Linked DNA regions of Homo sapiens: region 2 is linked to region 1. The links come from fine-mapping of genetic effects on gene expression. A gene starts in region 1. The other region holds a variant in brackets. All regions are shown on one strand. Distances are from middle to middle.

Evidence for each region. PIP is the estimated chance that this variant, and not a neighbour inherited with it, causes the effect. A credible set is the group of variants that fine-mapping cannot tell apart.
Region 2: its variant is the best candidate, but not a certain one, in a credible set for the expression of MAPRE1 in whole blood (INTERVAL, PIP 0.52).

Annotation. Positions count from the first base shown.
Region 1 is chr20:32,818,539-32,821,302 of GRCh38, reverse strand. MAPRE1 (microtubule associated protein RP/EB family member 1) reads right to left here and starts at 1,349. Exons shown (of 7, transcript NM_012325.3): 1 at 1,275-1,349. RefSeq lists enhancers at 1-300, 301-970 and a silencer at 1,043-1,632.
Region 2 is chr20:32,849,244-32,852,007 of GRCh38, reverse strand. It overlaps MAPRE1 (microtubule associated protein RP/EB family member 1), which reads right to left. Exons shown (of 7, transcript NM_012325.3): 7 at 1,603-2,764. Among named protein-coding and RNA genes, the nearest start is that of EFCAB8, 8.3 kb to the left of the region's middle. The variant A/G (reference allele first, on the strand shown) is at 1,105.

The DNA of each region.
Region 1 (2,764 bases):
GGCTCACACCTGTAATCCCAACACTTTGGAGGCCGAGGCGGACAGATCACTTGAGGTCAGGAGTTCGACAACAGCCTGGCCAACATGGCGAAACCTCGTCTCTACTAAAAAATACAACAATTAGCCGGGCTTGGTGGCGCGCGCCTGTAATCCCGACTACTCGGGAGGCTGAGGCACGAGAATCGCTTGAACCCGGGAGGCGGAGGTTGCAGTGAGCGATGGTGCCACTGCACGCCTGGGCAACAGAATAAAACTCTGTCTCAAAAAAAAAAAAAAAAGGAAGAAGAGAATCTCTCTTAAAGACAGTGTTAGTATTAAAAGACACAAAGCCACATGGAGCACTTAACAGTGCTTGACACAAAACAAGTGCCCAACTAACAAAGAGCTGCTATTATCATTACTACTGTTAGAGACATGCCATCGGAGAAGCGGATGCCCGGCCTAGCATAACCTCCCTCAATGGGCCCCAGGATCCTCATCCCCAAAATGGGGCAGAGGTCAAGCTCTGCCCTGCAGCATCCGAGGGCAACTGTGAAGTAGGGACTGAACTAGCACTGTTGATACCATCCCGTTATACTGTCCTCCTGCTCATCATAATGTGGATTCCTGGAGAGCAAATCTTTGTTCCCGGGAAAACAGCCAGGGTTTAGCACGGTGCCCAACACCTAGTGGGCATTCAATAAACACACACTGAAGAAAGGAGGGAGTCCAAGAGCTGGCTTACTTTCTGCCATACATCGCGCTAAGAGTTTAATGTGGGTAGTATTACTGTCCCCGTTTTACAGATGAGGAAGCTGAGATCCACAGCGGTTAAAGCACCTGTCCAAGGTCACACCGCACGGAACCCAACCCAGGTCTGACTCCACCACCCGATCTCTCGGCCCTCAGGCAACACGGCCTCCCACAATGTGCGTCCCCAGAGCTCCCAGGACGGCCCACCTCGCCCACACCCTCCCAGGGCCCAACCACCCTGGGACCTCCAGTCGCTGCAGCGCAGGGACCACACCTCAGCGGCGGCCCAGAAACCCCCACCCCGCGTAGCAGCAGCCCACTTCCGGCCCGAGACCCCGCCCCCTGAGCAGAGCGCAGCGCGCGCCCCCAGGCCCAGCCCGCGCGCGCCGGGTGACGGCCCCGCCCTTCCCCCACCCGGCTCGAACAGCACCGCCGTGTGGAACGGCCCTGGCGCTGCCCGTAGGGCCTGCCCGCGCACGCCCGGCCTTGGCCCACGCGGCCGCCCCCCCAGCCGCACCCCCCGGGCCCGCTAGCCGGCTCACCGGCTCTCGGCAGAACCGCGTCCACTGCCCGCAACCGGCTCCGGTTCCGTCTTCGTCTCGTTCAAACCGCCAGACCCCGCCCGCCCGCCCGCGCGATGACCTCACACGCACCCCCTCGTTACGCGCCGACGTAAAGGCTCGCCATCCTCCGCCGGCTCCTTTTATAGAGAGGGTCTCAGCCGCGCGCCGGGGGCGGAGCTCGGCCCCTGATCCACAGAACGGTAGCCGAGGGGCGGGGCCCCGACCGCCGGGGCGACTGCGGCACGTGGTCGGTCGCAGCCAATGAGGTCCCGCCTCGGCCCGGTGTGACTCAGTTACAAAATCCCTATGGCAGTAACCAAAAAGAAAATTGCTTTTACAATGAATTTTTTTTTTTTTTTGCTTAGAGATGTATGGAGGTCTCGCTGTGTTGCCCAGGGTGGTCTCGAACTCTTGGCCTCAAGCGATCCTCCCGCCTTAGCCTCCCAAAGCGCTGGGATAACAGGCGTGAGCCACCGCTCCCAGGCTTACAATTAATTTCTGTAAGAATGGGTTATTGAATCATAAAGATACCTAATAGACACTTTGGGGAAACGCTTAGAAGTCAACTTTCTGGGCCGGGTGCAGTGGCTCACGCCTTTAATCCCAGCACTTTGGGAGGCCCAGGTGGGAGGATCACCTGAGGTCAGGAGTTTGAGACCAGCCTGGCCAACATAGTGAAACCCCATCTCTACTAAAAATACAAAAATTAGCCTGGCGTGGTGGTGGGCGCCTGTAATTCCAGCTACTTGGGAAGCTGAGGCAGGAGAATCACTTGAACCCAGGAGACGGAGGTGGCAGTGAGGCGAGACTGCACCACTGCACTCCAGTCTGGGCGACAGAGCAAGACTCTGTCTCAAAAAAAAAAAAAAAAAGTCACGTTCTGTGACGCCCCCGCCCCCCCATCTGCAATATCATGCGGCATATTTTCTTCTTAGTACCATAAGAAGGCATCTTGTGCCTTTACTGTCTGTCTCCTGTAAAGTCCACAGGAGCAAGGACCTCCTGAGTCCTGTTCCGGGTTGTTTCCCAATGGCTGTACATACATTCTCTCTTGCCCACTCCCTCTTTTTTTTTTTTTTTTTTTTAAGAGATGGGGTCTTGCCATGTTGCCCAGGCTGGGCTGGTCTCCTGGGCTCGAGAGATCCACCCGCATCGGCCTCCCAAAGTGCTGGGATTACAGGCGTGAGCCACCACACCTGGCCCTTACATTCTCAAGAGAGCCTTGGCTGAAGGAGGAACTGGGCTGGGCGTGGTGGCTCACACCTGTAATCCCAACACTTTGGGAGGCCAAGGCGGATGAATTACCTGAGGTCAGGAGTTGGAAACCAGCCTGTCCAACATGGCGAAACCCCATCTCTACTAAAAATGCAAAACTTAGCCGGGCATGGTGGTGGGCGCCTGTAATCCCAGCTACTTGGGAGGCTGAGGCAGGAGAATCACTTGAACCTGGGAGGCAGAGGTTGCAGTCA
Region 2 (2,764 bases), 31 kb before region 1:
ATGTCAAACAAGTTCCCCATGTGATTCTGAAGCCCATCAGTTTGAGAATCATCAGCATGAACAATGATCCAAATTGAGCCAGAGAACCCATTTGTTTACCTATCCTTCATGAAACACAGAACCTGCCAAGCAAACCAAGCAGCAAAGACTGTATGTGCTTCAAATTCAAGAGCCAGGTCAATGCACTTGGTCAGATACCCACAGTTTTGGCTTCTCTCTTTACCAAGGTAACTTCTCAATTGACAGTAGCCAACAGTATCTTCACAAACTCCTTGCACTCCTGGAAGGTATCTTCTTGTAGATGACCAATACATATGGTGTCAAATTCCTTCTGAAGGTATTTAACACTTTAAGGGAGGTATCATACCATTAACTATGGGTGCAACCCTTGTCAAGATCATCAGGTTGGGTTTATAGAGCATCCATAACCATGACTCTACATATCCTACAACACACTATCTCTGCCCATTTAACTTTATTTCTGACAGAAAATGGCAGCAAGTCTCCTTTTGAACTCATTTCTAATAGCATATAATTTTATAAGGGAGAAAAAAATGGTGACAATTTTAGATTATTTTATAGATTAAGATCATGTTAACTGACTTTGAAACATACTTTCAGGGCTGGGTGCAGTGGCTCACACCTGTAATCCCAGCACTTTAGGAGGTCAAGGTGGGAGGATCACTTGAGCCCAGGAGTTCAAGACAAGCCTGGGCAACATAAGGGGACCCCATCTCTACAAAAAATACAAAGTTTAGCTGGGCATGGTGGTGCATGCCTGTAGTCCCCACTACTCACGAGGCTGAGGTGGGAGGATCGCTTGAACCCAAGAGGGCAAGGCTGCAGTGAGCCAAGATCATGCCACTGCACTCCAGACTGGGCAACAGAGGGAGACCCTGTCTCAAAAAAGAAAGGAAGAAAGAATCACACCTTCAGAAAAAAAAAAAAAAAAAATCTCCCCACAGTCATCTGCCAAGCACTGTCCTGCTATATTTCTCAGAAGGAAATGCCCTGAAAAGGCTTCACAGCAGATAGGCCAGGCCTTGGACTTCCGAGAGGAAAAACCTCTTACAGCAACGAGAATTTTAAAAAGCAGGAGGCTGT[A/G]CAATATAATGTGAATGAAGAAAAAAGAAGTCAGCTTAGAAATAAGCACATCTGACCGAGCACGGTGGCTTACGCCTGTAATCCCAGCACTTTGGGAGGCTGAGGTGGGTGGACCACGAGGTCAGGAGTTCAAGATCAGCCTGGCCAAGATGGTGAAACCCCATCTCTACTAAAAATACACAAAAATTAGCCGGGCGTGGTGGTGGGTGCCTATAATCCCAGCTACTTGGGAGGCTGAGGCAGAGAACTGTTTGAACCTGGGAGGCAGAGGTTGCAGTGAGCCGAGATCATGCCACTGCACTCCAGCCTGGGCGACAGACCAAGACTCCATCTCAAAAAAAAAAAAAAAAAAAAGAAGAAGAAGAAGAAATAAGCACATCTGAAAAATCAGTAAAGGATGTGAAAAGATCAGTCCTCACTGAAGAAAGAAGCACTGGTTTCCCATCACTTGAACCTAACAGCATATACCCAGGGCAAGACAAATTTCAGAAGACATGATACTCTTGAAATACAGAATTTTATTTAGAAACTGTTTAAAGTAGAAAAAAACCCTGTCAAGAAAGACCAGGTGGAAAATGGGTTCCCAATAAAATGGAATTTTAGGGCAACAAAAGTCTAAAAGGCCACAAAAGAGAAATAGCACCACTGTCATTTGAACAATGGCTAGTTACTTGCATTTTTTGGCATTGTTAATCACTGAATCTGGGTTTTCCTCTGAATTCCACACAGAGCATGCACTACACAACATTTTTATCATAAAATACTTGCTTTCTACACACATTTCAGGACAAGCTACCACCAGAAACAAATCAATACAAATACATCAGGGGCTGAACAATCTCAGTAGTGGGTGAGACACATTTTGCAGAATCCTGCCAAACAAAGGAACTGAATAGGCTGTGGGCAAAGCAAATGAGGGAGAGTTAAGGAATGAAGTATTTTAAATATTAATAATTAATTCAGACACGGTACTGTATTTTCCGCAAAAGAAAATTAACATTTAGTAACACACTAATGAATTTTATCTCCAAAGAGATTAGTGCACTGGCAAAGTATTCGGATTACAGTGGAGAGCTGTGAACAGCAGATACCGAAAACACCCCAGCCTGGCAGATCCCAAGGTAACGATGGCCTTCACTGACCACTCCCTTTGCCAGAGGTCCAGAAAGAACTTGCAGCATGATCACCTGCCTGCTGCACTTCCAACTCTAAGCAGCAAACTTCAAGGAGCCAAAGAGGAGTCCCCAGTGGGCAAGGGGAGCAGAGAAGAGAAACGTGGTAAATGTAAACCTAAAAGACAGTAAAATGGGATACAATCCCCATTCAAATCCCAGAGATGTGGGCAAGTCCCCAAAAGTAGTTGTTAGATTAAAAAACTGGGCACACCTCACTTCCCCAAAAAATATAATACATAGAAATTTCGGGGATAACTGGAAAAATAGAGAAATGCTCAATGAAAACCAAGCTCTTCAACTGTAACATCTCAGGGCTGAAACACATCCTCTATTATCCAGGCAACGATGCCTCTTGCTTTTTAGCTGGGATGCAATTGGTCAATGACACCAAATAACTTTACAGGGCAACTTTTTAAATGTTCCTTTTAGACCAAAGCCTAGGCCTATGAGGGTTCAAGCAGCCCTGTAAGACCTGTTGACAGCAG